2 separate regions of the Homo sapiens genome follow, and region 1 is linked to region 2. Evidence: fine-mapped expression QTL. A gene starts in region 2. The other region holds a variant in brackets. All regions are shown on one strand. Distances are from middle to middle. Region 1 has its middle 25 kb from the start of CDH23. Region 2 holds the start of SLC29A3 (solute carrier family 29 member 3).

Region 1 (5,373 bases), 53 kb before region 2:
CTGTACTCCCACCTGCGCTATTCCTCCTCTGCATTATCGCCATCTCAGGCATAGGTGAGATGAGCTGTTCAGCAGGATTTGATATGTACCAAAAGCTGTTCTACTACTGCTGCATCCTCCCAGGACCCCAAGAAGCAAGCGGGGAGCAGCTATTCTCATCTTACTTTCTGGAGCAGGAGAGGCTTGACTCACAGAGGCAAGCGACCCCATTTCTGGACCAGTCTCTGCACTGTCAAACAGTGTCTGAATAGGAAGGGGATGTTGGAAGAGGGTTTTACATGGAGCAAAACGTGGATAATGACACGCTAGCGGCAAGCCAAGGAGGTTAGGGGATCCAGGTTCTACACCAGAAGGGGCCCAACTCAAAGTGGTGAAGTCGCTGGCTGCTGCCTTTCACCAGCTGCCTTTCTCCCGCTGCCAGCTGAGGACCTGCACCCTTCCAGGATGGAGATGGGGACAGGGGCAGGCAACATTACTCTTCTTGTAGTTCTCTGCCCAAAAATCTAGGCTTCTCAGGCCTGCTTCCCACAACACACACACACACACCCCAACATGGAGCCTCTTGGCTTACCTTCGGGTTACCATGGCGGGAGCAGAATGGAGCTCTATCTTCTTACCATGAAGTTACACAGATATCATTATCTTGAAACCTCTTAAGAGGTAAAAAGGTGGCCAGCCATTGACCAGAGAGGACCCTTGGCCCCTGCCTATCATCTGTCACGCATGTCCTGAGGGGGTGGGAAATGGTTAAAGGGAGAGAGGAAAGGGAGCCCCCTAAATCTCTACCAATCCTGGCTATATATCCTAATAAGGCTCAGCTATGCATATTTAGGAAGACAGAGGAGAGGGAAATAGGAAGAGAGGTACAAATAATGAGGAAAGCAAGAGGTCTGCCTGGCTCAAAGGAAGTGAATTCAAACTTCTAGTAATGAAAATGGGCCCAGGACAATAATACAAATGGAGGCCCTATACCAGGTGTTTTCATATGTAAGTTACACATCAATGACTAAACTTAAAATATCTTCTCCCTTCTACCTTGACACATATATACCTTTATAACAACCTGGAAGGTCAGGTTGGAATCTAGAATTCTCTGACTTCTCAGAATTCTGCTCAGTCCCACATCTAGAAGGGTCTCCTGTGAACGAATGTAGATATCCCAACCTATAAGTCCCAACTCTGCACCCCTTGCAAACAGCCATTCCTTGCACCCAGGTGTGCCCTTAGCAGTCTGCCCTTGGGGCCATGGGTCTGGGAAAAGGCCTTCCCAGCCCTTCCTTATAGGTTCAAGCCCATTTAGGCAAGGGATTCAAGTGTCCCACGTACCCAGAGCATGGCAGAAGGGAAGAGGGCTGTGAGCTCCTGGTTATCATGTCCCTTTGGTCCTACAGACTCCTTGTCCCATAGGATGGGGTGCAAATGGATCTAAGGGCAGGATAATAATAAGAGCTAATATCTGATACGCTTTTTGCAGTTCACAAGGCACTCTGACAGGATCAGAATGTCGAGGCATGCAGGATTAATATCTCCATTTTACGGATGAGGATACTGAGGTTCAGAGTTCTCTGATTCCAAGCCCTGTGTCCTGACTCCCCTATTTCAAGAATCGAGGTGGCTGTTCCTTACCCAACAGGGCAGAGCCTGAGGTTCTTGAGCAGCAGAAAGCAAGGAAAGGGAAATTTCCCGACATCCTCACAACAGGCCAGGGCCAGCACACTTTGACATTTGACCTGTCCTATTCCTTTCTCCCAGAGCTTTATAAGCAGAAAGCAAGCCACAGACATCTGTCTTCTGAAAGACAAGGCCAGAGTTCTGCATTCGTAATTCACACAACATTATTAGAAAATGCAGTCAATTCAGTTTCTGTTTGAAAAAGTGTTGCTGGTTGGTAATGGCTCATTTCCCCTTTTTGAGTCTCAGCAAAGACTCAGAAAATGAAAAACAGTTAACATCACCTCAGCAGCTAATGAATTCCAGAGGACAGATAGGAGGTGTGACTACACCCTGGTAGGAGGCAGCCCCGCACCCCTCACCCACTGCTCCCCAGTTACAGGAATGCCTGCGAGGGGGTGAGATCACAGCGCCTTCCAGCCTGTCATCGCACGCATGCCTTGAGACTTGCCCCTCAGCCTCACTGTCTCGCCCCCGCCCCTGTCCCTCCTCCCTCCTCAATATTGATGGTGTTGGGCCTCAGCTGAAGGGAGCAGGTGGGAAAGACACAAGTGAGGAGTAAAGCCACCAGGCGCCAACCTTGGGGCGTGGTGAAGAAGATGAGCTTGGCACTTAAAATGCAAAGGCCCTGCCCTGAATCTGTGATCATTTTCAAGGAAGGTTGAGTGAGTGTCCACAATGCATTAGCTTCATTAAAGACTTTCCGGTTCCTGAGGCCTCAACTGGAACAGCAGCAGATGAAGCCCTCACTTTCTCTCCCCGGGCCAGGTGTGAGCTGATGACAACCCCTCATCACTCTTTGGTTTAGCACAGTGGTTCTCCTCGTGGGGTTCTCAGACCAGCAGCATCAGCACCACCTGGGAACTTGTTGGAACTACAAATTCTCAGGTCCCACACCAGACCTATGGAATCAGGGACTCTGGGAGTGGATACAGCAATCTGCATTTACCAAGTGCTCCAGGTGATTCTAATGAGGACTGCTGCTATTGTGACCATCAGGCACTTGAGTCTTGGAGTCAGGCAGACCTGGGTTTGAATCTCAGTTCTGCCACTTAGCAGCTATGTGAGTCTTAGTTTTGGCACATATAAAATGGGGATAATAATCCTTCCACCTAGTGACTGAATGGATTAAGTAAGATTATGCATTCACTTGCCCGGTTCATAGTGCTCAATAAGCAGTAGTTCCTCTATTTCTCTGGAAATCTGATTAGACAGAGGGACTTCAAGAAGTTCACCGTGAAGATGCTAACAGGCCAGTTCAGGTGTGTGGCTCCTGACTCACGCCTAAAGCCACCTCTTGCATCCTGTGACCGATGACTGGTTCTCACTACTTAACCAGGACTGAAACTGTCGATAGATCTGGTTTATTCCCCAGCTCTCTAAAAGGAATCCTCCTGCCTCTGAGAGCAGTGTGCAGACTTCCTCTTTGCAATGATTTCATGAAACAGCAGGACCTGCTGCACTTGCAGGCAGAGCTCTG[G/T]AACTGGGCTATTATTTCTGTCGTTCTTCCTCATTGAAAAAGTGGTCAGGATAACCTCTGCCCTGCCAACCTCCAAGGGCGATGGGAGGAGAAGTAATCATTTAGCCTGGATGGAGAGCTTTATATGGATTAAATCATTTAATCTTCACAACAATCCCATGAGGATAGACACACTGTCAATCCCTTTTACAGATAAGGAAACAGAGACACAGAGAGGTTAAGAAACCTGTCCAAGATCACTGACTAATAAGACATAGAGTCGGGGTTCAAAATCAGGCAGTCTGGCTTCTAAGTCCCTGCTCTTAAGCACTGTGCTCTGTCCATTGCTCTGTCCAGGAACACCATTAAACAGGACGGGTCACTGTAGCTTGGCACCCAGGGGCTCGGAAACCTTGGAATGCAGACCTCTTTGACTATCTGATGTAAGCTATAGCCCCTCTCCCAAAGCACAGAAACTTCTGCATATGATCTCAGGGGTTCCATGAATCCCTCTTTCCACCCAGAGGCCCCAGATTAAGACCCACATAAGACTCTTAGAAGGAAGTAGCAAGGACATCAGAAGTCTAGAGCCATGAGAACATTCTGCCCTGGTTAAACTCCAAGGAGTGGGGCGGGCTAGTGCAGTAGTGATGGAGGCCGTTGGGTGAAAGTGCTGGGAAGAGGACCTCACATCCTTCACCCTGGAGTGAGTGCATAGGAAGTGGGCTAGGAACGTGGGGGCTTTTTCCAGAATCGGAACAGCAATCAGTAAGACCTAGTGCTTGATGGATCAGTATTCACTACACTTTACAATAATCTATCATACATTTCAAAATAGCTAGAAGAGAATCATTCGGGCCAAGCGCGATGACTCACACCTGTAATCCCAGCACTTTGGGAGGCTGAGGTGAGTAGATCGTTTGAGCTCAGGAGTTCGAGACCAGCCTGGGCAACATAAAGAGACCCTGTCTCTATTAAAAATTAAAAAATAAATAATAAAATAATTTAGATGTTTCTAGTATAAAGAAAAGACAAATATTTAAGGTGATGGCTATCCCAATTGCCCTGATTTGATCTTTACAAATGATATCAGTGTATTAAATTATCATATGTACCCTGAAAATATATACCTCTATTATGTATCAATAAAAAATTACATTAAAAACTGCAAAACAATGGCACTTTTCTCACCAATATTTTGTTTTGGAAAATATAGTTATATTTCATTTTTTTAAAAAGCTGGGCACAGTGTCACATGCCTGTAGTCCCAGCTACTTGGGAGGCTGAGGTGGGAGGATCACTTGAGCCTAGGAGTTGGAGGTTGCAGTGAGCTATGATTGCACTTCCGAACAGCCACTGCACTCCAACCTCAGCAACATAGCAAGACTCCATCTCTTAAAATATATATAATAAATAAATAAACAAATAAGAAGGACAGCACTGAGGACGTTCAATCTCCTTGGGCCTCCGGAACTTAAATCTGTTAGAAACTGCTGGTCAGCACAGGCCTGGTGCCAGCTGGTTTACAGTAGCCCAAGTATGGTCTTGCTGAGGGGCAGAGGTTGGACTTGGTGGCCTCAGGGCCCCACCAGCTCTAGGCATATGTTTTAAGTTGGGAACAGAAGGCATGGTTATCCTAGAACTTCATACTTTACTCTTCTCTGTGTCTGCGAAGGTGGACCCACCCACGGTTCCTTGGCACGTTGGAGAGGACAGGCTTGAGGCATGTGGCACCTGAGATCCAGATGGTGAAGCTCTCTGCCTGTATCACATGCTCTGTAAATCTTGCTCTTGCCTTCATGAACCTTATGTTTCAAGTGCCTATAACATCTGCAGCCTTGGGTATTGATGACCAGTGACCCATCAGTGCCACCATAGAAGCACTGAGGGCAGGCTGGGTGGCCCCTGTCCCTCACACCGGACAAGTTCATCCTGACTCTGCTTCTCCCCCTCCTTACCCTGTCTACCCAGCATGTGCTCTGGGCGTCCTCAGATCCACAAACCATGTAAACTGGAAGTGCCCTTCTCAATCTTTTAAGGCAGCAGGGTGAAGAGGAAAGACAGGCTTTGGAGCCTCCTAGCTCTGGTCTGAATTCTAACATGGTCTCTTACTGACTTAATCTTTCTGAGTCTCAGTTTCCTCATCTGTAAAATGGGGATGACCCACCCCACCTGGCAGGGATACTGTACATAGGCAGAGCCTGACCATAGTAGCTGCTCAATGGTCAGTGCCTCCCTTTACT
Region 2 (5,373 bases):
TAGTTATGCAACTGCAACTGGCTGGCAATGCCTGGCCTATAAGCAGCTGTTGAACAAATGTCAGCATCTCCCTGGCATCCTGGGCCTGTCGCATGGCTGGCTGGCTGGCTGCTGAATTTGGCTGTAAGGTAGCATGCCTGCTTCTTTGCTCTACATAGCACCTAGGATGTGGCAGCAGCTTGATAAATGAGAAATGTCTCCAAAATGCTGAGGATGGGACACTTCAGAGTCCCTTCTGCAGTAGCCTCTTCCCCACCCAATAAACTAATAAATAAATGCATCTTGGTTTCTATAGGAGGCTAAGCCTAACTCAAAGCATCGTACCAAGAAGACTGGGGCCTTTATTCCCTGGTGGGATGGGAACACCTCCTCACATGGGTGCAGAACCTTATCCACTATTTCAGGAGAACCTCAGAGCATCCCTTGGAATTAGGCAGGGCAGAAAACATTGCCCCCTTTTTTCAGATGGAAAAACTGAGGTCTGGAAGGCACTTGCTATGTCCCACAAATAGAAAGAACTCCCAATAGCTAAACTTAAGTCCAGTGATCACAAATGCCAAGGTCTGTGCCTAACAGAGGTCACACTTGAGGCTGACAACAGCCTAATATATTAGGTACTACTCTAAGACCCATTTCACAGAGGGGTCTGAGGCTCAGAAAGGTTGAGTAACTTGCCCAGGGTCACATAACTAGTAGATGACAAGAGTGAAGTTACACAGCCAAGCAGACTGGGGCCCATGCTGGACTCCTCAGCACACCGGGGAGGACTGGCTGGGAATGGGAATCTGTGTCTGCTGGTTCCAAGTACAGGCATCCTTCCTGCAAGCCTTGAAGCCAGTGAGTCGGGAGGGGCCCAGGCACACTGCAGGCACCCTTGTCAATGTTTGCTGAATGAACGGACTCTGCACGACCAGGACATTCTCCCCTGCTGGGGTAGCATGTACCCTGGAGCCAGCAGGTGGGGGGCCACTGGATGCCCAAGTGCAATGCATCCAGCCAGCAAGTCTATTTTAAACTCCCCTGGTTAGCAGAGCCCCTCCCCAGCCTGGATTCGCATGGAGGCCAGCATTAACAAGCTCACTGTCTGGAAGCTCACTGTGTGGAAAATCGCTTTTTCCACATGCACCCACTCATAGAGGAAAAGCCATGTGAAGGCACAGCAAGAAGGAGGCTGTCTGCAAGCCAGGAAGAGAGCCCTCATCAGAAACCAAATCAACCAGCACCTTGATCTTGCCCTTCCCAGCCTCCAGATCCATGAGAAACAAATTTTGTTTAAGCCACCCAGTCTATGCTATTTTGTCTGGCACAAAATGGTACAAATGTAACAAGCTCACTTGTTACATTTTAAAAATTAGTGTTTAAAATGTAAAAAATAATCATGACCCACCCACATAGAACAAGAGAGAACCGGCAAGTGGTTCTTTCCAGAGGCTCCAGCTACCTGTGGGGGCGGCTAGAAGGTCCACCAGCCCTGTCACTCAGGACCACACCTGGCTAGGGCCCCCTTCTCAGTTCCTAGCGTCTATTTGTCAAGGCTTGACTGAGCTTCTGAAGAAGGAGCCAGGAATTTTCTCTAACCAGGGTCACAGGCCAGGGCACTGGAGTGAGCAAAGTCTTATTAGTCTTTATAAAAGCTAGCTGCTGGCTTCTGGATTAAAAAATAAAGAGAAAGGCAGGCAAGGAAGTGCCCAACCTTCCCCAAAACAAGCTGGCTGTGGCCTGGAACGTGCTCCTGGGTCACCTGCGGGAGCCCGGCCATGCACAGACAGACAGCCCCACACAAGGAGGCAGGCACTGCTGGGGCCGCGGCAAAACCTCATCTGGGCTGGGAAGCCTGGGTGCTGGTTCCAAGGAGGTTCCTGACTCTGGCTAGGTGGCTCGCCCCTCTGTGCCTCGATCTCCTGGGCTGTGAACCGGGGTGGGGAGCTGGTAGGGCTAACCTGTGGGAAGGCACTGGGAAGCGCAGGGCACCGCCTACTGGCCGCGGCAGAACCGGCTTTGCGGTGTAAACAGCCCCAGCCTCAGGCCCCGCAGCTGGGACCGAGAGAATCAGCCACCGTCTGGATACTTCGGGCCGACGGGTCCATACCAGGCCCCCACCATACAGGCGGTGAGGTCCAGTCTCAGGGAGGAGGAGGGGAGAGGATTTGGGGAAGAGAAGATAGAGACCCAGAAAGAGGGGTGGCAGAGAGCAAGGAGAGAGAGGAGGGACGGTGGGGAAGGGACCACGGATGGGGTAGGGTCCTGCGGCTCCCCTGGCAGCCCGCAGCCGCCCCCAGGGCCCGGGAGGGAGGTCGCTGAGCGCGAGTCTGGGGGCGGCCGGGACCGTAGCCGGAAGAGCCCGAGCCGGCCCGCACTTACTGTCGCCGCTGCGCCACGCCGCCGCTGCCTCCGGCGCACGGCCAGGACCACTGGGCTTGGCAGGCGGCAGGCGGGCTCCTCCCCCGGCCCCGCCCCGCCCCTCGCGGCAGCACGCCGCCGCTTCCCCGTTTGCAAACACGCTTTTTTCCTTTGTCTTCTGCCGGCGCGCCGGGGCTCCCCCTTCTGGCGCTGAGCTGGGGCCTGCGTGCGCCCATTTTATAGGAGAAAAAGTGAGTCACCCAGTCTTAAACGCACTGCCCATGCTTGCGATGGGTGCGCTGCGCATCAGGCCTTTTGGTTGCTGCTCCTTCTTTACCTTGGAGCCAGACCCCACTGTCTCAGACCTCCCCTTTAGCTACTATAACCTGCACCCCAGGACTCAAAGGAGCCCTCATCTTGTCCCCAGGCCGCTGCAGAGACCCCTCTCCAAAGGCCGCTTCTACCCTTACCGGCTGCCGCTGCTCTGGAGGTGAAGCGGGACCCACACCCGGACTGAACTGGGCCTCCCAGGCCAGGCAGCTATTTTCAGTAGACCCAGAACATGGCAGTCAGCAATTCCAGCCCTCACACTTGACCTCAGCCATAGCGTGTAACACACAGCTGCCGCGTGTTCTTTAAGAAAGCAGGGGCCGGGCGCGGTGGCTCACGCCTGTAATCCCAGCACTTTGGGAGGCCGAAGCAGGCGGATCACCTGAGGTCGGGAGTTTGAGACCAGCCTGGCCAACATGGCGAAACCTCGTCTCTACTGAAAATACAAAAGTAGCCGGGCATGGTGGTGCGTGCCAGTGATCCCAGCTATGTGGGAGGCTGAGGCAGGAGAATCGCTTGAACCCGGGAGGCGGAGATTTCAGTGAACCGAGATGGTGCCACTGCACTCCAGCCTGGAGCCTGGGCGACAGAGCAAGACTCCATCTCAAAAAAAAAAAAAAAAAAAAAAAGGCGGAAACCTTCCTGACTCCCGGTCCTGGCCCAGTTGGCCTATTCAGAGCGGGGATCTGGATGCTTCACAGGGCCTGAAGATCTGTGACCATGGATAGTAAATTCTTGCAGTTGCCATCCCAGGGCTCAGGGGTGCCACAGAACCCATTGAGGCTGTCAGTGTGTGGACAGGTTCTCAGAACATCCCCACTCCCTGCCCCAGCCTCTCATTTTATAACCACCATTCCCCAAACACTGGCCTGATCATAAAAGTCTCGAGTACACATCCAGATTCTGGGGACCTCTCCCCAGGAGGGTTGCTGCCACTCCCCAATCCCTGAGGGTGGTGCTGTATCTGCTTTGTTTGCTCTTCCCTCATCGTGGGCACATAATTTGTGTTCAATAAATACCTGGATTAATACAACCCATCACTCAGGGGGTGCAGAATGGGGATCCAGAATGGATCTATTTAACAAGCTCCACCAGCAGGCGAGTTTGGAGACTAGCACCCTAAATTGTCAGAAAGCCCCCCGGCCCAGGAGAGGAAGGGGCTTAGCTCCAGGCTTACAAGCTGAGGGATAATGGTAAAATTACTAAACCTCTCTGAAACCCAGGGTCGGCTTAGGACTGTCGGGAGAATTAAGTCAGGTGATCCATGCCAGGCACTCAATGCAAATTTCCATCACTTCCAAGGAAGACACTCCCCACCCCCAAAATGTGATAGTGTATATGTTAGTTTAGTCATCAGGCCTTATTTTTAGCCTCTTTACGTTGGAAAAAAATCCTCTAATATACAGAGCATTTTCATGAACAGTCTCCCATTTGATTCCACCCCCCCACCCCAGTACCCAGTGAAATGGGACTGTTGTCCCCATTTTACAGATGAGGAAAGCCAGGCTCAAAGAGGTCAAGTGGCTTCCCAGGGCACACAGCTGGCAGTGATGGAGTGGCAGAACCCAGAGCCAAGGCTCTTTTTGTCATGCCCGGTTACAGGCAGGCAGGTGAGGCTGAGGGGAGCTGGGACAGCACGAGGGACAAAGCCGTAGGATTCAGTGAGGGCAGCAGATCAGGGCTATTTCTGGTCCAGCCCCAAGACCATGACCCATGTCTGTGAAGCTCCGGTGCTTTGTCACTTGATTGCTTTTACTTCATGCAGAGTCCTGAGTTGTTTGTAGTCATTGTTATCTTTATCTTTGGAGAATGTGCATGTATGTGAGTGAGTGAGACAGTTTCAGGACACCTGCTTAGAGAATCAGAGGTGCCAGGAGCCCTCTTCCAGAGCTCTGAGGCTGAGGTCTTTCTCCAAATGGAGGAGGCGCCAGCCACTTGGGGATTTGCTGGTTGCTAGGGCTGAGTTCAGGAAGGGGCTCTGGGGATGGCCTCCATCATGAAAGCAGAAAGCCGTGGGAGGAAACAGGTTGCTAATGCATCCGTGGGGCTGCTTCCCGGACAATGTGGGCTTGTCTTCTCCTCCAGGATCTAGGCGGATGGCGGTGGTAATGTCTAGCTTGGGGACAAGATGAGTCAGGTACTGTTGGGCACACAGCTTCCCAGGGAATGTTTGAGGCTTTGGGGGATCAGGGAAGGAACAGGAGAATGGGGGTCCAGAGCCCTGAGCTCTGAGTCTGCCCTGGCCCCTGACCAGCAGGCCCTTCAGTGACCAGGTAATAAAAACATTTACCCTGACAGATGATCAGAAAAGAGGGAGATTGGGTCAAGAAAGGGAAGTAGAGAGGAAACAGAATAAAAGTGTTTTCACAATACCTACTTCATAGCAGCGGACTCCAGGGAGGGGAGGGATGGGGAGGCTGGGGTGGGCAGGCCTCAGAAATTGGCTGGGTTCCTGTCCCTTGCCTGAAGTTATCCTGAACATTGCTTTTGATAAGTGCTATAGGAGCGGAAAGGTAATTTTTTCTAGCCTTCATGAGGTAGGGTAGACACCTGAAACAATCTTGAGATTGAGAAGAGAAAAACAAACAGAAGTTTAGTAATGTGTATATGTCATGTGCACTTGGGAAATACTCAGAGAAATAAGTAAATCTCCAAAAACCACGGCTTTGAGTTCAGGCTTAAATGCCATCTTCAACTGAAACA

What was found. PIP is the estimated chance that this variant, and not a neighbour inherited with it, causes the effect.
Region 1: its variant is the best candidate, but not a certain one, in a credible set for the expression of SLC29A3 in prefrontal cortex (GTEx, PIP 0.54).

The regions. Positions count from the first base shown.
Region 1 is chr10:71,369,694-71,375,066 of GRCh38, reverse strand. It overlaps a transcript of SLC29A3 not described here. Among named protein-coding and RNA genes, the nearest start is that of CDH23, 25 kb to the left of the region's middle. RefSeq lists an enhancer at 1,684-1,733. The variant G/T (reference allele first, on the strand shown) is at 3,152.
Region 2 is chr10:71,316,299-71,321,671 of GRCh38, reverse strand. SLC29A3 (solute carrier family 29 member 3) reads right to left here and starts at 2,413. Exons shown (of 6, transcript NM_018344.6): 1 at 2,362-2,413. The coding sequence starts at 2,362. It overlaps LOC124902445 (a long non-coding RNA gene), which reads left to right and starts at 2,009. Exons shown (of 2, transcript XR_007062183.1): 1 at 2,009-2,110; 2 at 2,768-3,703. RefSeq lists a silencer at 2,167-2,616.